3 linked regions of the Homo sapiens genome follow. The protein of the gene in region 1 interacts with the protein of each later gene in a pairwise test. Each region holds a gene or a part of one and is shown on either strand. Other genes may lie near its edges.

Region 1 (11,109 bases):
GTAGTGGGAGAGAAGGTTAGAAATTTTCCATTCATGCTTTAAACATCTCAGCCCTGCAGCCCTTTTCGGGTATACAGCCAAGGGATGAAATCTGGAAAAGACAGTCAGATCCCGGGACCTGTAGGTGCTTTGATTAAGCTCCCAGGCTCCCACAGCAGGATGCATATGGTCTCTGGGACTGTGCCATCCTCCTTACACTTCTGCCTGCTCTTTTGTTTTGAAGGGCAGAGAGTTGATTTCACTCATTTCAGTTCTCATCACTGTGGCGAGGCTTCTACATCTGCAGTCGGCAGGGTCAGTGTTCCCCTGGAGCAAGAGCAGACAGACTGGGAGCCTGGCTTTTGCAGGTACCCTGCTGAGACTCATCTGCTTCCTGTTCGCACCCTCTTCGAGTTGGCAGAGAGCACCTTCCCAAGGCTTCATCCCTACTCCTGGCATTACGACTAAAGAGGGGTGCTACAAAGTGTTAGTCAAAGTTAGGAGCGTTGAACAACCCCCGGGGAGCAAATGCCTTACTGTCCCCTGCAGGTGATGCAGATGACAGCATCTGGCAGGTGGAAGACCACATTTCACACATTTCAGCAAGTTGACTTGGATCAAAAGACTCTCAGACAACACTGCCCACTCTCTGCCTGTGAGATAGCAGAAGAGCTAAAGCTAGTTTTTACGAGTTACAATGTGAGAGGTAGACAGAGTATGTATTTCCCCTTCACAGCAAGGCAACACTACAAGAAAACTTAAGTCAGAAACTGCCCTAATTTCAGTGTCGGAAAATGGACAGTAACATATCTTGTACCAAGAGGAGCTTAAAAATGCCCTGACAGGCTGGGCAGGGTATAATCCCAGCACTTTGGGAGCCTGAAGCTGGGGGATCACTTGAGCTCAGGAGTTCAAGGCTAGCCTAGGCAACATTGCAAAACTCTTATCTCTACAAAAAAAAAATACAAAATAATTAGCAAATAAAAAATAATTAGGCAGTGGCATGCACCTGTGGTCCCAGCTACTCTGGAGGCTGAGGCAGGAGAATCTCGAGCCCAGGAGGCAGAGGTTGCAGTGAGCCGAGATCATGCCACTGCACTTCAGCCTAGGTGAAGGGAGTGAAATCCTGTCTCCCAAAAAAAAAAAAAAAAAAAAGCTAAAGAATTATAGGTAATTTCCCATAAGACGTTGCGAACTGTAGGGAGAAGCTGGCCTGGGAGAGGGAGGAAATGAGGTGTGGTGGGTCAGGCACAGTGGCTCACTCCAATAATCCCAACAAGCAGGAGGATTGCTTGAACCCAGGAGTTCAGGACCAGCCTGGGCAACATAGGGAGACCCCATCTCTACAAAAAAAAAAAAAAAAGTTTTTTTTTTAACTAGCCAGGCATGGTGAAATGCACCTGTAGTCCTAGTTACTTAGGAGGCTGAAGCGGGAGGATCACTTAAGCCCAGGAGTGGTTGCAGTGAGCTATACTTGCACCACTGCACTCCATCCTGGGCAACAGAGCGAAACCCTGTCTCAAAAAACAAAACAAGAAAAGAAGGTGTGGTGTAGGAAGAGGTGGCAGACAGACACATTTAGTTATTTAAGGCTGATTTTCACAAGGCACTTCCCTGGTCCTAAAAGGATCAACTCAGTAGTCTCACTTCTTGTGGCATTTCAGACTCTTATTGTTGTATAAGGAGCCATTTGAGGAGACTGTCTCCAAAGGTAGTTGATCTCTTTCTGCCACAACTAGTTCAATCACCAGGGGAATATCTTGGAGTTAGTTGTAACTAAATCTGCTCAACTAAGAATACAAATTCCCACTGCCCCCTTCATTTCATCATAATCTCATTTAACAAGTTTTTTTGTTTGTTTTGTTTTGTTTTGTTTTTATTTGAGATGGAGTTTCGCTCTTGTTGCCCAGGCTGGAGTGCAATGGCATGATCTTGGCTCACCGCAACCTCCGCCTCCCGGGTTCAAGCAATTCTCCTGCCTCAGCTTCCCGAGTAGCTGGGATTACAGGCATCCTCAACCACGCCCAGCTAATTTTTGTATTTTTAATAGAGACAGGGTTTCACCATGTTGGTCAGGCTGGTGTCGAACTCCTGACCTCAGGTGATCCACCCACCTCGGCCTCCCAAAGTGCTGGATTACAGGTGTGAGCCACCGCGCCCGGCCTCATTTAACAAGTATTTATTTGGCCCCACTCTGTGCTGGATATAGTGCTGAATGCTGAGAACACAAAAGCAAACAAAACCAACAAGGTCCAGTCCTCAGAACTTTCCAACTAGTGATTGACACTGAGACAAAGACAGGCAGATAGAAGGCAGTGTAATCACAAGCTCTTTTCCAGGAAAGCACAGGGCACAGCACTGTGGACCGTGTAACCGGGACCCCACACAGTCAGAGAGTGTCAAGGAGAGGCTTCTAGGGAGTGAGTAACTCAGGAACTGAGATCTGAAGGCTGCTTAGGAGTAAGCCCCATGAAATGAGAAGGGAAGTAGAGGCTAAACAGGCAGAGGAAAGGTTCCAAGGTGAGGGAGCCTGTGGCCCATGGGAGCAGCTGAGACAAGTTCTATTTTACTAAGGAACACTAAATCTAGGAGGTGAGTAACAATGCTGAACAGTGAGTGGGACTGGGTCATGCAGGGCCTTGTCTACTTTGTTAAGAAGTTAAGGGGTGGCCAGGCACAGTGGCTCATGCCTGTATTCCCAGTACTTTGGGAGACCGAGGCAGGCAGATCACCTGAGGTCAGGAGTTCAAGACCAGACTGGCCAATATGGTGAAACCCCATCTCTACTAAAAATACAAAAATCAGCGAGGTGTGGTGGCAGGCACCTGTAATCCCAGCTACTCAGATTGAACCCAGGAGAATCATTTGAACCCAGGAGGCAGAGGTTGCAGTGAGCTGAGATCGTGTCAGTGCACTCCAGACTGGGCAACAGGGGCTATGGCTCAAAAAAAACAAAAACAAAAACAAAAACCAGTTAACAAGGGGCATTGGGAACCCACCGAAAGTTTCCAAGCAGAGCAGTGACATTATCAATGTGTACTGTAGGGAGCGAGTCTGGCTGCACAATGAATAGAGTGGAGAAGAAGAATGCTGATACAGAGATTAACTTGGAGACTGTTTCTGTAGTTCTCACGTGAGACGATAGCTACATGACCCTAAGGCATTGGCAACTGGGAACGGAAAGAAGATGGAGGATTTTAGTAATATTTTAGAGGGAGAATCGACAGGACTCAAGGATTGATTAGAAGAGGGGGATGGGGCTGGGCGAAGTGGCTCACACCTGTAATCCCAGTACTTTGGGAGGCCGAGGCGGGTGGCTCACCTGAGGTCAGGAGTTCGAGACTAGCCTGGCCAATATGGTGAAACCTCGTCTCTACTAAAAATACAAAAATTAGCTGGCCATGGTGGCACGTGCCTGTAGTCCTAGCTACTCGGGAGGCTGAGGCAGGAGAATTGCTTGAACCTGGGAGGTATAGGTCGTGGTCAGCCGAGATCATGAGATCACACCACTGCACTGCAGCCTGGGTAACAGAGAGCAAGACTCCATCTTAAAAAAAAAAAAAAAAGAAGAAGAAGAAGAAGAAAGAAGAAGAAGGTGAAAGTGAAATTGGGAATGACTCCTGAGATTCCAGCCTGGGTAACAGTGCATTGTAGTACAACTCACTGAGATAGAGAACCAAGGAAGCAAAGATAGCTTTGGAGTCAGGATGGAGGTGAAGGCAGGATTACATGTTAAATTTAGGACATACTGAGTTTGAACAGCTTGGTGGAATGCACTTGGCTATTGGGGTCCAGTACAGACCTGGGGTGGAGCTGTGGTCATGAGTGATAAACACAGACATGGTGGATACTCTACAGAGATATATGGGATTGCTCTAGTAAAGCGCATCAAGACAGAAGAGAAGGCCAGGACAGAACCCTGGAAAACAACCACATTAAAAAGCAGAATTGAGCAAGATGAGCCTGCAAAGGAGAATGAGAAGAAGTAGAAGTAGAAGGAGAGAAACCAGGAGAGTATAATTATCATAGAAACTAAGAGAATAAAAGGCCTCAAGGAGGACCAATAGTGCCAGCACTGCTGAGAGATCAAGTAAGTTAAGGACTGAGAAGTGCTCAGGGAATTTGAGCAATGCAGAGGTTACAGGAGACCATGGAGAGAGAGCCTAAGTAGAGGACGGCAACCAAGCCTGATGAGAGCGGCTTCAACAGTGAACAGGAAGGAAGTTGGAGCAGTGAGTGAGTAAACTTTCCCAACAAGTGTGGCATAGACTAGAAGAAATGGGAAGTAGACATCAGTGGCAGCTATTTAATGGTTGTTTTAAAAAATGAGAGAAACTTGAACACCTTTCAGTGCTGGTGGAAGGAGCCATTTACTTTACAGGCAATGGTCAGTCTCCACAGAACCTCATCTCTCGGAAAGGAAGGAGGAGGGTTGCAAGTGCGTGTTGTGAGGGGTAGTCTTAAACCAGGGGAGGGGTGCTTCCCCGACTTTAATGGGAAAGAAAGATGGTTGTCAATACAGGTAAGTTCCTGCTTTGGTGGCTGGTGGCTGACAAATCTGATGGCTTCTCTTTTCCCTTTGAAGGTGGAGAAGAGGTTGTCAGAAGCAACATGAGTTTGAGGAGGGGAGATATTAGATATCATAATTCTATGATAATTATATGCATCCAGAGATAAAAAGATCACCAGATAATGCTAGGGACTCTGAATTTTACATATCACCAATCTGGTTTTACTTCTTTTGTTTTGTTTTTCCTAATAGTACTCAGCAACCAAGTGTACAAAGAAGCAGTTAGCTCTTTGGTACCCCAAATCCAATTGAACTGGAATATGTGATATTTCCCATACTTAAAATTTCATTCGGGGCCAGGCACGGTGGCTCATACCTGTAATCCCAGTACTTTGGGAGGCTGCGGCGGGTGGATGACGAGGTCAGGAGCTCAAGACCAGCCTGGCCAACATGGTGAAACCCCGTCTCTACTAAAAATACAAAAAATTAGCTGGGCGTGGTGGTGCACACCTGTAGTCCCAGCTACTCAGGAGGCTGAAGCAGAAGAATCGCTTGAACCCAGGAGGCAGAAGTTGCAGTGAGCTGAGATCTCACCACTGCACTCCAGACCGGGCAAAAGAGCGAGACTCCATCTCAAAAAAAAAAAAATTTATTTTGGCCAGGCACAGTGGCTCACACCTGTAATCCCAGCACTCTGAGAGGCCGAGGTGAGCAGATCACGAAGTCGGGAATTCGAGACCACCCTGGCCAACAGGGTGAAACACCGTCTTTACTAAAAATACAAAAATTAGCTGGGCGCAAGCCTGTAGTCCCAGCTACTCAGGAGGCTGAGGCAGGAAAATCATTTGAACCCAGGTGGTGGAGGTTGCAGTGACCCAAGATTGTGCCACTGCATTCCAGCCTGGGCAACAGAGTGAGACTCTGTCTCAAAAAAAAAAAATTTTTTTTTCATTCTAATTTTACTTCTTTCAAAAGAAAGAAAACATTTTCTGGTGCTATCAGAAATAGCCCCATACTCAGAGTGGGCACAGTGGCTCACGCCTGTAATCCCAGCACTTAGCAAGGCCGAGGCTGGTGGATCACTTGAGGTCAGGAGTTTGAGACCAGCCTGGCCAACATGATGAAACCCCATCTCTACCAACAATATAAAAAATTAGCCAGTTGTGGCCAGGCGCAGTGGCTCACGCTTGTAATCCCAGCACTTTGGGAGGCTGAGGCGGGTGGATCATCTGGGGTCAGAAGTTCAAGACCATCAAGGCCAACATGGTGAAACCCCATCTCTACTAAAAATAGAAAAATTAGCCGGGCGTGGTGGTGCGCGCCTGTAATCCCAGCTAATCGGGAGGCTGAGGCAGGAGAATCGCTTGAACCTGGGAGGTGGAGGTTGCAGTGAGCCGAGATTGCGCCACTGCACTCCAGCCTGGGAGACAGAGCCAGACTCTGTCTAAAAAAAAAAAAAAAAAATAGCCGGGTGTGATGGCACGCACCTGTAATCCCAGCTACTCAGGAGGTTGAGACAGGAGAATTGCTTGAACGTGGGAGCCGGAGGTTGCAGTGAGCTGAGATCTTGCCACTGCACTCCAGCCTGGGCGACAGTGCGAGACTCCGTCTCAAAAAAAAAAAAAGAAATAGCCCCATACTCTTCAACATCTGCTGTGCTTTTGAGAAGCTTTTCTGTATTCAAGGAGCTGCATCCTCACTCTGTGACTACCCCTTAAACTCTCTTTAAAACCCTCTCATCCTCTTTCTTGTTTGTTCCTCTCTGTGACTAGCCTGTCATTATTAATGTACCTGTCACCTCTCACCTGTTCTAGGGAAAGAATCTAATGTTTAGAGCATCTACTATGTATCAAACACTTTCAGTTGTTTTTACTTCAGTGATACAATTTACATCCCCACAAGATAGAAGGGAGATATTATCCCTACTCTCACAAAGAAGCTAAAGCTAGGAGAACCTAAGGTCATGTGACTACTAAATGACCAAGCGAGGATTAGATCTCAGTCTGTCTGACTCCAAAGCCCATTACTCTGCTGTAAGCTCCCAAGGAGCAAGCAATCTTCTGATTCATCATTACATACCTCATGGGAACTCAAACAGCACTTTGCACATAGAAGATGCTTGATAAATATTATTGATTTGAACTATGACTTGACCCCTTGAATATCTGTAGTGTTCTGGCAATTTAATGTGTGCCCAACTTTCTCTAAGAAGCCATACCATTCGGCTTGGTTTAAAAAAAAATGCTCTTCAGGTTCAGCAAGGGCATCAAATGTGCTAATTTTACAATGTAGACAGGAAGATGGCAAAAGGAAAGTGCTTGCTCTCTTCCTCTAGATGATTTTTTTAAATTTAATAATCCCATCAGGGAAGTTAACAGTTCACAGTGATAATGGCAACAATGAAACCACCAAACAGAATCTCCCATGCAATCACTAGAATAAATGAGCAGAAGCATGAACAAATTCTAACTGACGCTATCCTCTTTTCACTTTTCAGGAGTATAACATGTATGGCTGGTGGGTGGGAGAACTGAACAGCCTCGTTGGGATTGTTCCAAAGGAGTATCTCACCACTGCCTTTGAAGTGGAAGAAAGATGAAACCCAGGTATCAGAACCATGGCCAATGAACTGCCTAATAGTTGAGTGGAACTTGTGGGCCACTACTTTGTTTCTCTGAAAGATGAGAGTTGCCAGTGAAGTAGCTTTTCTTCATTTCTCATACTAATGCTAGTGATTCACCACTGATGGAAAGAAAATGCCTCTGGAATTGTTTTTTTCTTAAATTTGGGGACAGTGTCACTTAGGATAAGGTTCAACTAATAGCAACATAAAATCTAAACTAAAAATGACTTAATTAACACAGAAAGCCAGGCACAGTGGCTCACACCTGTAATCCCAGCACTTTAGGAGGCCGAGGTGGGCAGATCACCTGAGGTCAGGAGTTCGAGACCAGCTTTACCAACATAGTGAAACCTCATCTCTACTAAATATACAAAAAAAAAAAATTAGTCAGGTGTGGTGGTGGGCGCCTGTAATCCCAGCTACTGGGGAGAATCGCTTGAACCCGGGAAGCGGAGGTTGCAGTGAGCCGAGATCACACCACTGGACTCCAGCCTGGGCAACAGAGTGAGACTCCGTCTCAAAAAAAAAAAAAAAAATTAACACAGAAATGTATTTTTCTCTTCTGCAAAAATCTAGAGGTAAGTGGTCCAAGGTATCCAGTCCCAGGTACCTTTTCTTTTTGTTCTTCTCTGTGTGCCCAACATTCTCAAGGTTACCTCAAGGCCAAGACAGATGCTCAATCTCCAGCCATCCTGTCTGCAACCTACACAGCACAGCAGGAAAGATAAAAGGAGAAGGTCAGGCCGGGCGCAGGGGCTCACGCCTGTAATCCCAGCACTTTGGGAGTCCGAGGCGGGCGGATCATGAGGTCAGGAGTTCAAGACCAGCCTGGCCAACATGGTGAAATCCCATCTCTATTAAAAATACAAAAAATTAGCCAGGCATGGTGGTGTGCACCTATAATCCTAGCTACTCAGGAGGCTGAGGCAGGAGAATCGCTTGAACCCGGGAGGCATAGGTTGCAGTGAGCCAAGATCACGCCATTGCACTCCAGCCTGGGCAACAGAGCAAGACTGTCTTGAGAAAAAAAAAAAAGAGAGAGAAAAGCATACCCTCTTCCTTTAAGGGTACTTCACAGATGTTGCGCACACACTTCCTTTCACATTCCATTGGTCAGAAGTTGGAATATATGGACACAGCAAGCTGTAAAGAAAGCTTATAGCCCTGTGTCCAGCTTAGAATTGGGAGATTCATGATTAAATACAAAGGGAAGAATGGATATTGGGATAAAACTAGCAATTTTTGCCACAGGGATGGATCTAGGTTTATCCCCAGCTCTCAAACCCAGGGCACCATTTCCCCAAAATCCCCACATATTGCAATATGACTGACCAAGATTAGGAATCCAATATGAGGATTCCTTATATTGGAACATATGAAATATTGGAACTATGGAACATAATCAAATTAACTTTTAAGTAATAGAGAATATGGTTTGCAGGGCCAGGCACAGTGGCTCACACCTGTAATCCCAACACTTCAGGAGGCCAAGGCAGGAGGATCACTTGAGATCAGGAGTTTGAGACCAGCCTGGGCAGAAGGTCTCTACAAAATTTTTTTTAAAAAATTAGCCACGTGTGGTGGTGCACGTCTGTAGGCCCAGCTACTTGGGAGGCTAAGGTGGGAGGAATGCTTGAGCCCAGGAGGTTGAGATTACAGTGAGCCATGACTGCACCACTGCACGCCAGCCTGGGTGAAAGAGCAAGATCCTGTCTCAAAAAAAGAAAAAGAATAGGTTTGTGTTGTATTAGCAAGAACCACATTGTGTTTCAAAATAGTGGGGGTGGGTGCCTGGTTTGGGTGGAGTAATAGTGGGAGCCACTTTGGTGCAGAGTGGGTTTTGGTTAGAATTAAGATTCTGATGGAGGGCCCCCAAGACCAGCATGTTGTCACTAGCTCCATCTTCTGGCCTGAAATAGGAGCAGTCTTCACTGCTGGGGGTAAAGAATGGCATCAGTGTGACAGTGATACAAACATTCCTTGGAGTCCAGACCAGAGCCCACTCTAGTGTGCTGCAGCAGCTGAGTGAACTCATTTAGGAAAATACATAAGGATAGATCTTATTCTCCAATGCCCTTGTACAACCATACAACACCAGCTCAGGCCTGTCACTCAAGGTTTGACTTTATGATTTTCCTGATGAAGACTGTTTCATGGCCACAAGTATAGAGGGTTGGAATTTTTCTGTCAAATCTAAACAAATCCAGCCAGCCGGGCATGGTGGCTTACACCTGTAGTCCCAGCACTTTCAAGGCCAAGGCAGGTGGATCACTTGAGGTCAGGAGTTCGGGACCGGCCTCACCAACATGGTGAAACCCCATCTCTACTAAAAATACAAAAATTAGCCAGGCATGGTGGCGGGCACCTGTAATCCCAGCTACTTGGGAAGCTGAGGCAGGAGAATCACTTGAACCTGGGAGGCGGAGGTTGCAGTGAGCCGAGATCGCGCCATTGTACTCTAGCCTGGGTGACAGAGACTCCATCTCAAAAAAAATAAATAAAAATAAAAAACAAATTCACCCTTTTCACTCTGTCATTTATTTGTTTATCTCTTCATTGTCTTTGGCCCAACAAATCTATTTCTAAGAATTTATCTGGCCAGGCGCAGTGGCTCACGCCTGTAATCCCAGCACTTTGGGAGGCCAAGGGGAGCAGATAACGAGGTCAGGAGTTCGAGACCAGCCTGACCAACATGGTGGAACCTCATCTCTACTAAAAATACAAAAATTAGCCAGGCGTGGTGGCGGGCGCCTGTAACCCGGCTACTCAGGAGGCTGAGGCAGGAGAATTGCTTGAATCCACGAGGCGGAGGTTGCAGTGAGCTGAGATCAAGCCACTGTACTCCAGCCTGGGCAACAGAGCAAGACTCCATCTAAAAAAAAGAATTTATCCTATTGACCATTTTTGGTTTGGGTAAAAAAAGAAAAAAAAATAGAAATTATCCTACAGCTATACTTGCACATATGCAAAATGACAGGCACATACGGTTCATTGTAATAGCAAACACTTGGAAATGACCTAAATGTTTAACAGAGAACTAGTCAAATAACTATAGTACATTCATAGAAGTGAATATTATGCAACAGTAAAAAAGAAAGGGAAACTGTGTGGAATACATTCTGAAATATGTTGGTAAGTTTAAAAAAAATAAAACAGCAAAGAATGGGAGCCAAATTTGCCCCATTTGTATAAAAAAGGACTGGAGACTATATATACCTATTTGTTTATATTTGTATGGGATATTTCTGGAGGGAGACATGAAATGATAACATGGTTGCCTCCAAGGACAGAGAAACTGTGAGACAGGGTAAGGGGGAAAACATTATACTCTGTGCCCTTTAATACATCTATATTTTGAATCACAAAAGCAAATTTATGTATTTTTCCTCCTTTAGGAAATATATTCTTCCCTCTCTCCTGCCTTTATGAGGAAACTGATCATCAAAAGTTCCCACTCCCTACTTCTGCCACCCCACCAACGCCTTGGACTCCTCTCTTTGCTGAAGAGACCCAAGTCTCTTGACACCTCAGAGTGACTGTAAGCTACCAGTAAGACAAGTGGGAAGAGGCACGTTCATCAAACCTGTTACTAAACCAGCCTAGTCATAGCTCATCCCCATCTCTAAATGTGTCCACACAACCACATCTGCCTTTTCCACAAGCTTTTCACAAAGAAGGTGAGAGAGAAGGAAACCTTGGGAGGAGGACATTACTGGTTGTTCTGGCTGGTTTGAAAAGCACAAATAAACTTGGGATGTGGTTCCTTGCCATGTGTGATGATGTTGAGCTCCTTTTTGTAAGATGATATCAATATGTCAGCTCTGGGCATTTTTACCACCTCCCAATAAAGTGGAGATAGCATGAGAGAAAACAAAAGCCCAGAGAAAAAAGGAGACTTGGAATTGTCTTTCAGAGCAGAATCTTCTCTGGAATCCACGTCTATTGTTTATTTTTTGTCTTTTTTTTTTTTTCTGAGACAGAGTCTTGCTCTGTTGCC
Region 2 (11,109 bases), on another chromosome or scaffold:
GGGGTCTCATCAGGGCTGATGGAAGCAAGGTGCCCACCAACACCAAGGTTGTTACCATGCTGGCAGACTCCCAGAAACCACTGCCATATTGTCCCAAGTGGATCTTCCTTCCCTCTGGCCTCTCCTTTGGGACACCCCGGTTCCCCTCAACTGACCCAGAAACCAGAAGACAAATGCCTGACTGGCAGGGCCCACATCCCTTCCAACTGGTTGATGCCCATGCCCTATCTGTCACTAAATATCAGCTCAGGTGATTACTCACCTATTTTGCAATGAGGAAGTTGAGGCTCAAGGAAGTTAAATAACTTGCCCAAGATCACAGAGCTAGTAAACACTGAGAACAGAATTCAAAACCGTTCTGCATGAGTGATGGCAAAACTTGTTTAGGCCAGCTTACCTCATACAGTCCAAACTGAAATGCTTTGGAGGGTGAAAATGGAGCAATTGAAAAGGGACGCTGGGGTGGCAACCACACACAGGACCCCACTGGGCAAGCAGGGATGTGAAGTTGCCATCATGTTCTTTCCCAGCTCCACAGAGCGGCAGGGTGATGAAAACGCTAGGTCTAGCCCCGTATTCATTTTAATGAAGGCCAAGGCCCATTTCTATCAGAACTTCCTGAAATGATTCAAACTGTTGCTTTCCCCATTATTTCCTATATTTGTTAGCATACGTAACAATCCTGAAGTTATTAATATCAAAGTGGATTTTTAAACATTTTAATAAATTTTTATGCTTATTTAGAGATGAGGAGAGAAAGAAAGTTGGGGAACCTGCATGGCACTACAGCCTAGGGAAGCAGAGGGCAGTATAGAAACGAGAGAACCTCCGCTGGAAAAGCAGATGGAAGAACTAGAAAATAGAGAGAGGACATCAGTGAAGCCCATGGCTCAAGGAAGTTGACAGTGTTACCCAAAAAAGATGTTCGCCACGCAGCTAGGAAGCCAATCCCAGTTTAATTATAAAGCCCAGAGTTGGGGGAACAGAAAAGTGGGGCTCAGGGCCAGTAGTTCAGGACAGACTTGGAGTTGAACTGTATCTGAGTTCAAATCCTAACTCTACCACTGACTCATGCAAATTATGTCTCTAAGTATGTTTCCTTATTTGTAACAATAAAGGGGGCAAGATTTACCTGACCGGATCCTTGTGAGGATTAAATGAAATCATATGAATACAAATCTTATGCTTGGCACATCCTAACAGAACAGTATCTTGGTAGTGGGAAATCTCTATGGAATGGGACTGATGAAGCAAAACCCAAGGCATCAGAGACTAGGTGGGTGAGTGAGGGTCAGGGAGGAAACAGCGTGGCTCCTGGAGTTCTGGTTTTGGTGACTGGGAACAGAGCAATACCACCCATCATCATAGAGAGTAAAAGGCAGGACCAGCAGACGCCGGAGGGAGTTGGAGTGATGCTGGTGAATTGGGTTTTGCATCAAGCTTGCAAGGCTTACAGGTCTTCTGAACGGAGGTGCTCACCAGGCAACCAACACTCGGGTGAGAGGTCTGGCTTGGCAATCTGGGTTTGAGTCACTGGCATGAAGGTGATGTTTCACGTTTAAAGGTTATAAGAGTTGCCCTAGGGAGATAATCAGAACTTTCACCTTACCCTAGGATCTGCGAACCCCTGAGAGTCTATGAATGAGCTTCAGGGAGTCTATGAACATTGTGAGATTATACACAGAATGGTGTCTCTGTGCATTTTCCTAGCTCTAAGCTTTCAGTAAATTTTCAAAGGAGTCTATGATCCCCCAGCCTCATCTCAAAACCACAAACCACCAGTGCAGTGTGAGGCACCCCCTGGGGAATACAGATATTCAAGATGAAGGCAGAGAAGAAAAAAGAAACAGGGAGAGAGCAAGACACTCGTGACTGGGCGGCAACTCCAAGAGAGAGACACCAAGAGGCATCTAGAGTCAGAGGCGGCTGAGGAATTGATCAAGATAAGGAAGGAATCCAGCAGGTGATGCCCCTGTGCTGATAGCCCTACTGCATGCAGTGAGTTCAAAAGGGAAAGACAGGGAGGCAAACACTGTCAATGGCATGAACCAATGGCCTTAACATTATTTCACAAAAATAGAGGGAAAGCTTTTCATAAAGGATCTGCCCCCTTGGGAACAATGAGAACGCAGCAAAAAAAGCTGTATGAATCCAAGTCTGTTTCAAGGGCACACAGAGGAGCCCCTTCCGCACCTTGCACAGCAACCAGATCTCAGCCCATTGCATTAGGTTTCCATCAACTTGACATAGACCCCATGAAACAAGTGCTGGGAAACACGCTGCTAAGCGAAGGCGTCTTCTGTTTGCGTTACCCAATAAAATCACCCAAGAAGAAGGCTCTGTGGCAGATTCCTGACGCGAGCACATGTTTTAGATGTGCGCAAGGCGCCTTCACATAAAAGTCACTGTCATTAAGGTCCAGTGAAGGTAGCTTCAGACAAAAGTCACTGTCATTAAGCTCCAGTTAAGCTCTACGTGTAGTTTATTTGTTTACAGTGCTGGCTTTGGGAGAATGAGACCCAGGATCTATTCCAGCTGTGTCACTTACTGTTTGCCCTGGCCAAGTTAATGAACGTCCCTGAGCTTGACTTTCCTCATCTGTGAAAAGTGAATAGCAACACACACTTCAGGCTTAGCTGTGATTATTTAGTGAGACAATATACTTAATCTCAATGCTCAGGGTCTGATACCCAGTTAAGCGTATTGAATGCTGGCTGGTGCTACCATTATAGCATGCAGAAATGTGTACCACATCCATAACTATCACTTTTCTAGTAGCCACATTAAAAAAATCAAAAGGAGGCCGGGTGCCCTGGCTCACACCTGTAATCCCAGCCCTTCGGAAGGCCGAGGCAGGTGGATCACCTAAGGTCAGGAATTTGAGACCAGCCTAGCCAACATGGTGAAACCCCATCTCTACTAATAATACAAAAATTAGCTGGGTGTGCTGGCGCACACCTGTAACTCCAACTACTTGGGAGGCTGAGAAAGGAGAATCGCTAGAATTTAGGAGGCAGAGGTTGCAGTGAGCTGAGATCATGCCTCTGTACTCCAACCTGGGAGACAGAGCAAGAGACTCTGTCTCAAAAAAAAAAAAAAATCAAAAGGAACAGGTGAAATTAAGTATTTTACTTTACCCAAGATATACAAAATATCATCAGTTCCATATATAAGGAATATACAATTATTAATGTGGCATTATCTTTTCCTTCTACCAAGTCTTTGAAATCCGGTAGTTTACATGTATAGCACACCTCAATCCAGACTAGCCTCATTTCCTGTGCTCAAGAGCCACATGTGGCTTGTGGTGACTGCACTGGACGGTGCGGCTGTAGACCTCTAGCTACCCCAGCAAGCAGAGTAGATCCATACGTCTCTCCCTAAGTATCACATTCTCCCACTACAGAAATCAGAAATGATCTTCTCATATAGTACTAAGTTAAATTCACATGCTGATAGTTTTTCAGCCCCTTCTACTTCAGCCTTCAGATTACTAACAAGTAGACAAGTCGGGCACGGTGGGTCATGCGTGTAATCCCAGCACTTTGGGAGGCGGAGGTGGGTGGATCACTTGAGGTCAGGAGTTCAAGACCAGGCTGGCCAACATGGTGAAACCCTGTCTCTACTGAAAATACAAAAATTAGCTGGGCATGGTAGCAGGTGCTTATAATCCCAGCTAGTCACTCAGGAGGCTGAGGCAGGAGAATCGCTTGAACCTGGGAGGCAGAGGTTGCAGTGAGTTGAAATGTCACACCACTGCACTGCAGCTAGGGAGACAGAGGTTGCAGTGAGTTGAAATCTCACACCACTGCACTGCAGCTTGGGAGACAGAGCAAGACTCTGTCTTTAAAAAAAAAAAAAAAAAAAAAGAATAATAGACAAGTTTCTGTGATGCACAATACACAACAATTTTAGTGATGATCCCCAAACACTAAGCACAGGGGTCTGTGTATTCGTAGTGAAAAATGACCAGATGACAATGAAGGAACTTCTAAGTGATAAGCTAGAGGGGGTCAAGGAATGGCAGGGGTGGCCTATGATGTTTTTAATGAAATGAACAACCTTCAAAACCACCGTGTGGCTAAGAACTGCTAAGAAAAAGCAGCACTTAGCTCAGTACTAACCAGAAAGGCGGGAGAAGGGGAGGCAGGGAGCACAAGCCTTCAGGGATCAGATGCACGAGTGACCTGTCAACCCACAAGGGTCATGGGCTTAGCAGGTCTGCAGCACAGATAAGCACCTCTGGCAGCACCAGCCATGACAGCATTGCTTTGGACGGTCTATGGCTTTATCTTCAAAGACAGCGCAAGATGAAAGAGAAGTGATGGGATTTTAGGGGAAGTGGGAGTAACTTTTTCCCTTTCTGTAGTCAGAAGAGGAACTAATTTAATGCAAAATATATTTTTCCAAGTTTTCAATTTAAGGGAGTAATACACTTTTGACGTGAGATATTGATAGAACTTTCCCCACTTATATTAACATACTTTTCTCATGATCATTTGACTAACAAAGTTAACACAGGGTTTCTGAGAGGTAGATTCAAAACCCTACAAGCGAGAAATGTAAGCAAAGAAACTGAAATTATTATTTTAAGTCATCACAAGGAGACCAATTCAGCAAACACGAGAAACCCAAAGTCTAACAGAGTCTGGGCCATTGACTCTAGTGGCAAGAACCCTTTGGCTGCTAGTCCCCAAGGTCACCCCATCACACTAATATATGTTATGTTCACAGTGAACATGGTGCCCAGAAGAGACCCAATTATATCTGAAAAACTCTGACTGGGGAATCCAAGAAGGTGCATAAACCAGTTTAGAAAGAAAAAGAGTTATGTTTCAGTTTGGCCATGTTATTTGTTGGAGGAAAAGTTGTATTTTGGATAGTGCAGAATAATGTAAAATCCAACAGAACTGGGCATCTATTGGTGGTATAACCTTGCATATATTACTCAACTTATCTAAGTTTCATGGCCAGCTTCAGTGGCTCAGGCCTGTAATCCCAGCACTTTGGGAGGCCCAGGTGGGCAGATCGTTTGAGGTCTGGGGTTCAAGACCAGCCTGGCCAACATGGAGAAACCCCACCTCTACTAAAAATTCAAAAATTAGCTGGGTGTGGTGGCACATGCCTGTAATCCCAGCTACTTGGGAGGCTGAGGCAGGAGAATTGCTTGAACCCGGGAGACGAAGGTTGCATTGAGCCAAGATTGTACCACTGCACTCCAACCAGGGCGACAGAGTGAGACTCCATCTCAAACAAACAAACAAGCAAAAAAAAAAATGAACTTCTCTAAGTCTCATCATCTGTAAAACAGGACTGTCACTGCTGACTTTGCAGAAGTTTTGTGAAGGTTAGGCATTATATGCATAAATGTGCTTCACATAGTGTCTGAAACAGGAGGTGTTTCATAAATAGTTGTATTGATCATAACAAGAGGAAATGACATATTTCTGTTTATTTCCTTGTCATGATAAAGGCATCACTGGAAAAAAGTTTTAATAAAAGACAGTAAAAAGTAAAGGACGCTACACTGACCTCCTTTGTGAACCTGGGCATATACCAGGGATGCAAGAGAGATTCATTTTCTCAATCTTTGAAACCATATGTGATTTTACAAAATTTTATTTTCCTGGTTTAATGAAACATGAAAAGAGACGGTCTTAGATGCCTCTGCAAGTGACCTTGAAAAGTGTGCTGTGTTTTCACAACTTTGGTATTCACCCATGACAGACTTCGCATGTAAACAGCAAGGCGGGGGTGTGGGGGTTAGTGAGAACGGAGTGAGGAGGGTGGACAATGTGTATTTTTCTGTGTCTGTATGTGTATATGCTTTAAGTCTTTTTTTTTTTTTTTTTTTTTTTGACACACAGTCTCACTCTGTCACCCAGGGTGGAGTGCAGAGGTGTGATTTCAGTTCAGTGTGGCCTCGATCTCCTGAGCTCAAGCAATTACACCACCTCAGCCTCCCAAGTAGTTGGGACTATAGGCATGTACCACCATGCCCAGCTAATTTTTTATTTTTCCTAAAGAAAAGGTCTCACTATATTTCCAGGCTGGTCAGAACTCCTGGACTCAAGTGATCCTCCTACCTCGGCCACCCAAAGTGCTGCAATGACAGGCATGAGCCACTGCACCTTGTCTGCTTTAAGTCTTAATGTACAAAGATTTCCTCCCCCATGGTCTCAAAAGAACCCTCTCAAACTACCAGAGATTCCTTTGATAACGAGGAAAAGTTTACATCTGAGAAACTCATTCACACTAAAAAAAGATAGTATTATGATTTTTTTCCTTATAGCAATTCCTTACATTTTAACAGGAGGTGTTCCCTAAAAAGATACCTCAAAGAAAAATCTCTGAGGTCTAAGAAATGCAAACACAATTGCTATAAATATACTGACACAAGAACTTTGTGTTCTAGTAGTAGCATATTAGGAACCAGTAACAATAAAGGAGATAGAAACCTTTCTTAATACCCCTCAAATCAAACCTCATAGGTGACTTTTTAATACAGCTTCAGGTTAGTCTGGTTTCAAGTAAAAGATTTCCTCATAGCTATGCAACTCCATGGTGAATGCTGTGTGTGTGTGTGTAGACTTCAGGTGGACATACTGCACTATTAGATTCTCAATAACATTTAGGATTCATCTGCCAAACTGGAACTTGCACCTGCTTTGCTTGTGACTAGTGTGAAATTGTCAAAGCAAGCCAGGAGCTGTTCTACCAACACATCCACAGAAGAAACGTGGATAAGTTTACCTTTCTTTGGTCTGGGTTTCACTGGCAGGGACTCCTTTCTTTCCATAGCTGCTTCTCTTTCTTTCCATCGTCGGATCTGTTCCTCTCTCATCTTGAAGAACAGGATCTGTTTCTGTTCTTCGCTGAGCTCTGCCAGTAGATCAGGATCTATGTACATCTCCGACAGTATCTGTTTCAGCATCTTTGCACTTCTGAAGTCTTTTATACTTGTGGCAAAAGTTCCTGAAACTGGCCTCCAGGTGTCCCTCCACCTGTGCTGGCACTTGGGCGTTTCCACGAAACTTCCCAAACAGCTCACAATCCTGGCTGACTGGGACAATAATTCAGCAAACTGGCTACTCAGACCTGGCACCAAATGTCCTGTCCAAAATGCTGTTCACTGAACCTGCAGAGAGAAAGAGCCCACATTCAGGCAGCGTGTTAAAATGTGTGGACACTGGCTAGGACGGGTTTAAAAAAAAAAGCTAGGAGGAAACACAGTATCACTTTTCAGTTCAGAGAGAAAAGAGAAGAAGAAAATCTGAGGCACACTTTGTTAAGAGTTTGTATAACCTCTATCCTGTAATTTCTAAAGATACTCTGTCAAAAAAAAAAAGAAAACAAACCCTAACTTTATACAGGTCAATCTCAGGCAAACAAAAAAAGTTCACAGAGGTTTGTCCAGCTCCCAACTAAGCAAACACATTATTACCCCAGAGCCTAACAAACCACCAACTGTGTGGCTGAAAAAAGAAAGAAAAAAAAAAGTCACAGGAAGAAATTAAAAGGCTCTCTGCAAAGTACCTATTTCAAAAGAAAATACCACTTTTGATATGTCACAGAGTAACTCATCCCAAACCAAACCAAAATAGAGCCATGCTCAAGGAAGAAAAAGGAAGAAATAAAAACTAGACCACCATGCATTTTCTGCAATTTCCCTAAAAAGTAGCATTAAATAAACAAAATTATGTACTTTCCTCTTCACAAAAGGATAATGTAATTTCCAGATAACCTACTAGAGCCATGAAAATCAGGGCAGGTGCAAGAGAGAACATCCATCTACATTCTGGAAGGTCACCGAGTTTTAGGTGTGCTTTTTCCAGATAACCTAGTTTAATAAAATCTAAATGGACAGACCAGATAAACTAGGGGGATGAAGAGGTCATTAGGTTCATAACAAAGGATCCTTCATTTATATGACTTTACCGCATGGCTCCTTGAAAGAGAAACCATAAAGCGAGAGTGCACAGTGGCCTCCTAGAAGTTCTCCTGTGGTTGGAAATCCTACTGAGGTTTCATTCTACTTTCCACATTTCTATTTTAAAATATTGGCTTAAAAATATTACCACACTGTCATACTTTCTCTCTCTATTTTTAAACAATTTCTAAGTCCCATAAACCATCATACTTTTGTAATCAGCAGGAAACTATGTAAATATATCTATTCTGGAAAACAAAAGACTTTGGATTCGATGTAATAAGATATAAGAAAAAAAACTTACTACAACTTTTCAGAATCACATGTGTCCTAAGAAATTGACCAATAGGCCAGGCGGGGTGGCTCACGCCTGTAATCCCAGCACTTTGGGAGGCCAAAGAGGGGGGATCACGAGGTCAGGAGTTCGAGACCAGTCTGACCAGTATGACCAACATCTCTACTAAAAAAACAAAAAATACAGAAATTAGCTGGGCATGGTGGTGGGTGCCTGTAATCCCAGCTACTCAAGAGGCTGAGACAGGAGATCGCTTGAACCTAGGACGCAGAGGTTGCAGTGAGCCGAGATCGCGCCACTACACTCCAGCCTGGGCAACAGAGGGAGACTCTGTCTCAAAAATAAAAAAAGAAAAAAAAAAGAAATTGACCAATAATTTGTTATTTATAATAACACCTCAATAATCTTACCACCTTGCCATGTGCTCTCAAATACGTTGTTTCTCCATACTATGTTCAAACAGTCTTAAACTTCAGACAAGTCACTTAGCTATATTATGACCATCGTAGTGTTGTTGGTTTCTCTTCGTTCACCTTGTCATTGATACAGTTAGATTTGTAATGCCCCTCTCACCATCTGGGGGCCTCCTTCAGCTTCCCGTCTTCCTCCTCTTCCGTGCAAAGTAGTTCCTTGATTTACACCTGTCTTTTGAGACAAGCACGCTCAACAGCTAGGCTACCACAGAGTGGTGTGCATACTCAGCTCTTAGATTCGCTGACTGTTCATTGTGAAGCCAGGCCCTTGATGAAACTACACCTATCCCTACTGACTGCAACCTATCATCTCGGCAGCATTCAACTACCAGAATCCAAATGGAACCAAACATTAAGAGAAAAATTTTAAAGGACTAAAAGTAATATCACGCCCTTCCCAGATCCACTTGCCAACTTTGTATTTTGCATTGAGATACCCTTAAAGGCTTGAACAGCCAAAAAAAAAAAAAAAAAAAAAAATGGATGTCTTGTCAAGATTTCTTGACTTTTGACTTTTTGTTTCTAGCAGCTTCTCAAAGGGTGGAGCCAATGAAATCCACAAGCTCCAAGATAAAGTGGTAAGAAAGGAGACAGAATGACTCCTTGACATTCCAGTAAATGTCCTTAAGTTCAATGGTTGGTTTTCGCAGAAATCACACACGGCAGAAGATGAACAGTTCAGCTGGGGTTGAGACTTCTGCTGTGTTCCCCATTTTGAATGCAGCGAATCCTATTCAAGGCATGGGTAGATCCTAGAATCTAAAACCCTTAAAGTGTCAAAGTCATATTCCTCCAGTCTCCCCCGCCCTGCATATTCCTGATAACACAGCTAACACTTCTTGTACCAGGCACCATCTTAATTAAGCACTCTACATGTGTTAACTCACTTAATCTTCACAATAACCCTTGGAGTCCAGCCCATCACTATGCCCATCTCACAGATTAGGAAGATAGAGCACAGGTCAGCAGCTGGTAAGCGGCAGAGCCGGGCAGTCCAGCTCTAACTCAGCTTCACTGTAATACACAACACAGAGGCCTTTTTGTGAGTTTATTTGTGTGCCCAGAATCAGAACAGCAGGATGTGGTGCCATGTATGAAATTTCAGAATGGAAGCCAGCAAATTCCTGCAGCAACAGAAACGCTGAACTGATGGTGCTTGACACAGGGCAGAAGCCTCCTCCTGGTCAACTGTAGCTAAGCTTAGGGGAGGCCAGGTGCACACACCCCAGCCAGGAAGGACAGCAAGGAACCGACTGTCACACTGACCCAGGTGTGGACATTGCTTACCCACGTATTCACCAGACACTTAGTCCCATTTCCCCTTGCACTTAGTCATCCACTTCGTCTCTACAATTTCCCCTTCCAAACAAACACTAAGAACAGCACAAAAAGCACAGCCTCTCACATGTGCAAGGAGGTTCATGGCACCTCTGTGATGAAATTCTCACATTATTTCCATTTTTATGTTGTTTTGTTTTACTTTTTATAGCAAACGTGGATTTCTAACATTAAAATTAACTAGTTCATCTTGAAGGAAAGACACTGGCTTCCTTGTGCCTCCAAGAATACTTGGGGGACCCAGCCGACAACTATCTGTGGTCAGGCCGTTGACGATGTGGCCATTCTGCCACTGCTGAATGGTACTGGTGTAAATCACCTGTCCCCCTCACCCTCTAATTCCCAACCCCTAACCCCCGCTCCAAGGCTTTCTCAGACCCCAACTCAAGCTCAGCACAGTACACCCAAGACACCCAGAGGCACTCCAGCCTCAACTCCCAGCTCCGCCTCTAGTGAGCGGTGTGACTCTGTGCTGTCACCTCACCTCCTTGGGACTCAGTTTCCTCATCTGTGAAACGAGGACTGGTTCAGTCTGTGACTTCTAATGTGTGGGTATCTGACATAATCTACTGTGAAGCGAAGGAGCCTGGTGGAGCCAGGGTAGAAGAAATAGAAATCAGGAAATTAACTAACTAGGGCTTTCCTACTTTCACTCCCTGACAAGGAAGTAATCATTGCTGATACTGATTCAAACTCAGAGGACTTTCCCATACTATATCAAGGGCAGCAAATCTCCGGTTATTCAAGATCCAACAAAGGAATAGCTCAGCTAACACAGCCCCTTTCTTAAAAGAGAGAAATGATAAGCAACAAGCCCACACCTGCTATTTATTCTGAACACCAATTGCTAAAAGGTCAGAGAATCCGTTGTTTTCCATGATACCATAGATTTGGCCTGATTCTCACACCTTCACACTGTTCTACAATACAACTGTCTTTTGAATAACTCTGAGACCTAAACAAAATACAATTTTAAAAGGCCTTAGATACAGGCTAAATCATAAAAATAGTAGGCGGGCACAGTGGTTCTACATGTAATCCCAACACTTTGGGAGGTGGACATGGGTGGATTG
Region 3 (8,046 bases), on another chromosome or scaffold:
CCACAGAAATACAAATAACTATTACAGAATATTATAAACACCCCTATGCACATTAACTAGAAAATTTAAAAGAAATCGATAAATTCCTGGACACATACACCCTCCCAAGACTGAAGCAGGAAGAAAATGAATCCCTGAACAAAACAATAATAAATTCTGAAATTGAGGCAGTAATAAAAGCCTACCACCACCACCAACAATAAAAAAAGCCCAGGACCCAGTGGATTCACAGCTGAATTCTACCATATGTACAAAGAATAGCTGGTACCATTCCTATTGAAACTATTCCAAAAAAAAACTGAAAAGGTGGAACTCCTTTTTAACTCATTCAGTGAGGCCAGCATCATCTTGATACCAAAACCTGACGGAGATACAACAAAAAAAGAAAACATCAGGCCAATATCCTTGACAAATGTTGATGCAAAAATTCTCAACAAAATACTAGCAAACCAAATCCAGCAGTACATCAAAAAGCTTATCCACCATGATCAAGTAGACTTTATCCCTGGGATGCAAGGTTGGTTCAACAAACACAAATCAATAAATGTGATTCATCACAGAAACAGAACTAAAGACAAAAACTACATGATTATCTCAATAGCTGCAGAAAAGATTTTTGATCAAATTCAACATCCATTCATGTTGAAATCTCTTGATAATCTAGGTATTGAAGAAACATACCTCAAAATAATGAGCGCCACATATGATAAACCCACAGCTACCATCATACTAAATGAGTAAAAGCTGGAAGTATTCCCATTGAAAACCGCCACAAGACAAGGATGCCCTCTCTCGCCACTACTGTCCAACATAGTATTGGAAGTTCTGGCCAGGGCAATCAGGCAAGAGAAAGAAAGCAAGGGCATGCAAATAGGAAGAGAGGAAGTCAAACTATTCCTGCTTGTAGCCGTCATGATCCTGTATCTAGAAAATCCTATAGTCTCAGCCCAAAAGCTTCTCAGGATAATGAATAACTTTAGCAAAGTCTCAGGATACAAAATCAATGTGCAAAAATCACTAGCATTGCTATAACCAACAATAGCCAAGCTGAGAGGCAAACTCCCATTCACAATTGCCACAAAAATAATAAAATGCTTAGGAATACAGCTAACTAGAGAGGTGAAGTCTCTCTCTGCAAGGAGAACTACAAATGTTCTTTTAAGTGAAGTAGATATAGTTGATTCTTTCATGTTAAAGCTGCGAGATTAAAAAAAATAGGATGCCAAGTTAAATTTAAATTTCTAATAAACAAGAAACAATTTTTGGTGCAAATATGTCCCAAATACTGCATGAGACATACTTGCACTAAAAAACTATTCTTGTTTCATTTAAAATTCGAATGTAACCCAATGCCTTGTATTTTATCTGACAATCAAATTTCATGTCATTTTGAAGAAAGTAATCATGGATAGTTTGAATAAAGAAGAAGAGTTTTCTTTACGGGATCTTAGCAAAAAACAAGAATTCATTTGTTGTAAGTTATCAAAAGCTTTTAATTGTCCTACAAATATAATTAAAATTTAGGAATCACTTTTGATTTGGGCAAAGAATAAAATGTAAAGAGAAATGTAAAGAGGTTTACAAAAGAATGAATACAAATAAAATGGACCCTTAGAAGAATAAATATTTTCACTTAAAACAGGACATAAAAAAGCCTAATTTTGAATGTCTTTGAAGAACCTTCAGATCATTCCAGATGTAAAATTTGTGTAGGAGATTGAAAGCATAGCCTTTTCTACTCATTTTAACAGATATTCATTTCCTTTGAAGTGATATATTTTAAGGTCTTCATATCAAGAAACATGCTGCAATTAGCTAGGAGCAAATAGCATTCACTTATTCAGATCTAATATGGTGTTATGAAATCATCTTATAACCAATATCTGGTATAAATCTAAAATTAAGATCAGTCCTAGTTAGTTGTAAAAATAAATTTTATGTTTAATATTTTAGAGGGAAAAAAACAGGAAAATTTCTCTGTACAAATATAAGAATTCTGAGGGGAAGCTTAACGCATTTAAAATTATCTTTGCAAAGACAGATGTTCAGCTAATCACTTTACACAGTTTTCCTCTTGCAAGAAAATATTAAAATATATATATCTCTTAAATGAAAATATTTATTTGTCACTTATGTACACAATTAATAGCTTGGGACCTGAAGTTTAGGCTTACTAAATGTATCTTTTATTCCCATTGAATTCTAATACCAGGAATAAAGCAAACAACTTTAAAAGAAACCTAGAAGTTTCTTTTTGCCCAATAAATGTAATGTTCTGGATTCATAACATTATCCCTACAGTGTACCAGGCTTTTGTAAGTCAAAACTTTTTGCTTAATATTTCTGACTGGATCCTAGAATTAATAATGGCAGTGCCAAACTTTAGCAAATAAATCTTTTATACCTTGTAACAGATCCCCATTAATGCAACCCATGGCCATAGACATAGACCTATAATTCACATATTATTTCTTTCTACAGGTAAAAATCATAGACATATAATTCCATGTTCTAGTGCCATGGGTCTCACCTTCGGTTTAGTATATGTTCTCACAAAGTAGTGGGCTTTCTGAGCCACTATTTCATCTCTTTCTTTACAACAAATTCCCATATGTAGAAAAAAAGTCTCAAGCTTGATTCTTAAACTAATAGAAATTATTATTGCTCTATTTTCTAAGTAGTTTTTAATCTTTCAAAAGATAGTGTCAGGTGGAAAACACATTTAAAACACACAACTACATTTGGAAGATGTTACTTGCAATTGAAACTTCTGAAGAAAAACTTTGCTTGTAGATTATTTAGACTTTCTGCTATTTGTATTTTGAAGCAATTAACAGATAAAGTAGGCATACATCATAATGTTCTATTGAACATGAGAACTGCAAATTTTAACTACATTATCTAGAAAATGGCAACTGATCAAGTTTCAATAAAAGAAAAGAATGCATAATAGTTTGAGTGACTGAAGAGGTAAGTGAAAGCAAACTTTATTTTTTGTGCCCATAATTGGTGATTCTAATCCCCTTTTCTCATTAATAAGTAAAGATGTAATAAGTAACCTTAATATAAATTAGAAACTGTGGCTTCATTGTAAAATTTACTTCTTTTCATCTGTTAAATAAGCACAAGGATCTATATACTACTATAAGGGTTAATTGTTAATTTTATATGTTACAATAGTGAAATAATTAGAAGTAGGGACACAAAATAAATGTGAGTTGAATGGACAATAATCGGTGCTGTATAGTTAAGACATATAAAATCAGACAAAAGAGTAAAGATATAGAAAACCAAACCAATCTAAAGGTTGTGTTTGACCTTCATGATAAGCTATTACAGAATTCACCAAAACGAGTTTTTATTACTTCATGAAAAATACCACTATTCTTGATTTTTTTTTTCTAGATCTTAAACAATTATTAGACTATTGGATAATTGGGGCCTGTAAAAGTGTCCTGCAAATGTTAATAAATGCATTAAACATATTTCAATAGGTGCATACACATTTCATATTTGAACATATAACACAATGTATTATAAACAAGAAAAAAATAATGGTTGAATTTTATTATGATTAGCGACATCCATTCCTGGTAAAAACATTCTAAGCATTGGAGAAATTCAAAGTAAATGCTTTAATGAAAGTTATGAATGGGATTTAACATGGGAACTATGCATATGCAATATCATATTTTTCATATCAATGAAAAATTCCATAAAAATAGCTATATTAAATTTCATATGTAAATATTTAACAAATATGTTTGTATTCTTCTATTTTTATACAATGAATATTAATACATATTGCATTTATTTATTTTAATGACATTTATTTAAGTTCAATTGTACAAAACCTAATTTGTTGTCAAAAGTATCAAGCAATAAATTTTAAATATTGTACAGGGAATAATCGAGCATGCAAAATTGAAAACCCCATGTAAAGACAGCATGATAAGCTCACTGGAAATTTTTTAATTAAATAAGCTTAAAAAGACATTGGACTAAATGCTAATATATGGAATATAAGATTTCCCAATGTTAATTTAGTTAACAACTTTTTTGTAGTAGCATACACACACATACCACCTTTATGTACTATCTCTAGAAGTAAAATAGTAAACTATATAAGATAGATATATATGAGTAGAACAAGGAGGACATCTTGAGGTCATTTCAGAAATGTACATGATTTTATTGAGTCTGCACACAGTTTATGATTTTTAAAAACAGATCCTTCAAGCTAAGTTAACACTTCTAATATAAAATGTATTTTTTCTTCATAAAAACAAAGGAAAAGCAAAAGCTTTTAGATTCACTTGAAAGAATTCTCTCTCTTTCTCTGTCTCTCACACAAACACACACCCATACACACATACATATACACACATAACGATTACAAAGAAGTTGTTTTTTACTGAATAAGAGATAAAATTTTAAAATAAGCATACGTCTGTACAAACTGTTCTGGCAAAACTATCTTAAATATTTTTCCACAGTAGTAAAATATAACCCTTCTACAAATATTGGTTCGCTGCATTTAATTAATCCACTGTATACCTATTTTCACTTCCTACTTCTACAAAAATAGAAATAACAGCTAACAGGAGGTTTGGAGTTTCCTCATTTATGTCTTTTCCTATGAACCTTGATTTAAAGCTGGACTTGCAGGACCATTGACAGAATGTTCTGGCCCCTCAGTGCCACTCGTGGGTTCAGAACCTTCAGCCTGTTCCTTTGCTTCAGGGAGCTTTTCTGGGGCACCAAGTGGATTAACACAATTAGCATCCTGCTTTACTTTGTCCACTTCATTATCAAATTCAATTTTATCTTCTTGATGGTTGTTTTTCTTTACTTGTCCATTCTGAGCAGGGTAGGTGCTGGCAATGACGTCATATAGGAATTGATATTGCTCCTAGTAAAGGAATTAAGTGGGAAATTACATGAAGAAAGTTGATGTCATTATTTTTATGCCAGATGAAGATTAGCAAGAACTAATGATTTATTTGTGGAAGTATTGGATGACAGAAAAGTACTTTTTGATATGTTCTCATAAAAACATCTAAATAATTTAGTTTCTTTATGGTGCTAAAGGGTTGACTGCAGGATACTTTTTGAACTTTACCTTGGAGCAACCCCAAACCAGTGTTCACTCCGCTCATGGGCCATTTCCATGCCTTTGCTCATGATGCCACGTTTTGTACTTATCCTCCTGTCTAATGCCTACACATTATTTAAGAATCAGGGCAGGAATCACTGCTTCGAGAAGCGTTTCTTGATTCCTAAAGTTTAAATTAAATGCCCTCATTCATGTTCTTCTTATAATTTTTCTGTCATTTTACTCACTACATTGATTAGTAAATACCTGGCTTTCCCTCATACCAATTAGCTCTTTATAGCAAGAGCACATAGCAAGCATTTGATACATTTTTAAGTACCAAGATATGAAATCTCAATATCATACATGATTAAAAGCTTTATATATTTTAGTGAGTAATTAAGTTTACACTGTGAATAAGGATTAATTCCCAGATGACCATCTACAGTTACTACCACATAGAGGGTATACACGATAGATCGATTACAAGAATATAAAACTTATTTTCCTTCCTGTATCCACATTTCTTTGCAATGTGAATTTGCAGGCCCTCTCAAGAAGTGGAGTCTATTTCCCTACCCCTTGAATCTGGGCAGGCTTTATGACTTATTTATTTGGCTAATAACATACAGAAGAAGACATGTGTGTCACTTTTAAGCCTGGGCCTCAAGTGGTCTCACACAAGTCTTCTTTCCCTTGTGGAACTTGCTGCTTTAATGTGAATAGGCCTGGGCTAGTCTTCTGGATGAGGAGGGACATGTGGCCCACTCACTGTTGTTGCCATAGCTAAATGGCAGCCACATGCCAGCCTACTGGCAGTGTAGGTCACTTTAGACCAGCCAAACTGTAGGGCACACATCAGCTGAAGGCAGACACATGAGTCAGCCTGGTCTCTATTGCCTGAGCCTGAGGGCACCAGCAGAACATTCCAGCATATCATTAGACTACTGAACCATAATAAATGTTATTTGTTTAGGCTCCCAAATTTGGGGGTGGTTTGTTACACAACACAAATCGATACAGGAGTGAAGGAAAGAAAATTAAGAAATTCATGAGCATTTAGGGAAAGGCTCTTCATGAACTGTCACAACAAAGTGCTAGTAAACTTTAGGCTCTTATTTAGACTTATAATAATTTAATGTGAATTATCATGTAAAAGTAGAAAAGCTAAAAGAATAGGAAAGAAAATAGAGAAGAGAAAAGGAAAGGGGAAAAAAGAACAAACGAGAGGAAAGGAGAGGAGAAAAGAAAAAAGGAAACCGTCAAAAAGAAAAAAAAAATTCCGAGCATGTTAAAAGCAATGGTGAAGGATACTTACGAATGTGGAAACCATGCCTGGCCTAGCTTTGCGTAGAGCTTTTACCACTTGAAAAATATCCACTACCTCTTCTGTTTCCGCACTTTCTAAGAGATTTAACAAAGCACAAAATATTCCCGTTTGCTGAGATCCATCCCTATAAAAGAAAGAAAAGATAGAAAATAATCCTACTTCTCACCAAAAAGGGTGATATTAGAATAAAAACAGGAAGAGAGAGAATATATTTTTTGCTTCATGTTTATCATAATTATCTTATTCCAACCTCTTTCAAGAACCAAATTATTTACGCTAAATGCATTTTTAGGCAAATTTTTCAATTTAAGAGTGTGATAATCCTGGAATTGAAAACTTATTTGTCTTCGACTTTACAAATATATTTTCTTTTATTTAGTATTTTATGGATTTTAATGCATTTTTATTTACATCTGAAGTTGTTGAAACCAATATCAGAATGCCAGTATGATAGATAAGGAAACCAAGATTTGGAGAAGAGAAAGCTGATGTAATCAGAAATATTAGACCTAATATTTTGTAAATTACTAGAACACATGCTCTTCTTCACTCTTCTGCCTCTCTACCACGTTTCACAAATGTTTTCACTTCTGCATCAGTAGAAAAGTAATACCTAGTAGAATTATTCACTAAAAAGAGGGCAATCAAATAGTTTACCAAACAATGAGAAGTATAAAGCATTATCATAAAGATTCAATTTAAACAATATGTTATCAGCAGGACACTTTAGTTATTGTACATAAATCATATTCTAAGAAACATATATAGTTTTACAGTGTAAACTTCCCTTCCTCAGCTTTCTTTCCACATAAATGCTGAAAATTCATATATTTCTTAAGGCTTGATTCTAGTATATGCAATTCCAATAATAACAATTAGACTTTTTCAAAAATTCCAAAAGTTTTTCACTAGATAAACATTTCTCATTTTACTTTACTATTTTTCGTTTCTCATTTACTTCAATATTCTTTTTCATGTAAACTTTTATATTATATATCTTTCTTTCAATTATATTGCTTATTTAAGGTGAATATGTAAGCACCTATCACAGATGAAGAAACTAATAAAATCTAGTAGTATTATTGATATTACCACAATCTTTGCCTTTGGTTCAGTTTAGAAAATTAAATAATGAGTTTCAAATCAAAATTGCTAAGCTTTGTGATTTCAGTTAATATTTAACTTAAAATATGTTTAATAAACTTTGTGTTCATTAAACATATTAGGTGTCTTTGTGACACCTAATAGAGTAGATCAATGTATATGGGTATATGTGTAAGGTGATACCCATCTACCTATCTGTTCACACACCCTTCCATTCATTAATTCATTCACACAAATGACATTCCTGGCTCAATGTTAGCTACCAAGGAATCAAAGATGACATGACACCAAGTATTAAAAAACACAACTTAAAATTATTGCACTATAATATAATCACTTCTATTATATTTCTACAATAGTTGTGTTGTGGAAACAACCAAGAGAGTGACCGACTCCATAAGAAGTTTTTACTGTGGTTATGTGTTTCATATATGAGGATAACTAGATAAGACAACATGTGAACCGAGAAGTCAAGCATTATGATTTTGAGAGCACATTCTACCAAATCCCACGCACC

The links.
Region 2: the proteins of SKAP1 (region 1) and SH2D4A interact in binary tests that used the Homo sapiens proteins (3 or more experiments, as listed by UniProt).
Region 3: the proteins of SKAP1 (region 1) and PTPRC interact in a two-hybrid assay, tested with the Homo sapiens proteins (one study listed by BioGRID).

Annotation. Positions count from the first base shown.
Region 1 is NC_000017.11:48,133,215-48,144,323, reverse strand, and holds the end of SKAP1 (src kinase-associated phosphoprotein 1), read left to right. Parts: intron 1-6,986; coding exon 6,987-7,088; 3' UTR 7,089-7,095; intron 7,096-10,507; 3' UTR 10,508-10,882; downstream 10,883-11,109. UniProt on the Homo sapiens protein: Positively regulates T-cell receptor signaling by enhancing the MAP kinase pathway. Required for optimal conjugation between T-cells and antigen-presenting cells by promoting the clustering of integrin ITGAL on the surface of T-cells.
Region 2 is NC_000008.11:19,315,373-19,326,481, reverse strand, and holds part of SH2D4A (SH2 domain-containing protein 4A), read right to left. Parts: intron 7,139-11,109; 5' UTR 6,935-7,138; coding exon 6,754-6,934; intron 1-6,753. UniProt on the Homo sapiens protein: Inhibits estrogen-induced cell proliferation by competing with PLCG for binding to ESR1, blocking the effect of estrogen on PLCG and repressing estrogen-induced proliferation. May play a role in T-cell development and function.
Region 3 is NC_000001.11:198,752,772-198,760,817, reverse strand, and holds the end of PTPRC (receptor-type tyrosine-protein phosphatase C isoform 1 precursor), read right to left. Parts: coding exon 8,046-8,046; intron 6,550-8,045; coding exon 6,414-6,549; intron 4,913-6,413; coding exon 4,637-4,912; 3' UTR 3,342-4,636; downstream 1-3,341. UniProt on the Homo sapiens protein: Protein tyrosine-protein phosphatase required for T-cell activation through the antigen receptor. Acts as a positive regulator of T-cell coactivation upon binding to DPP4.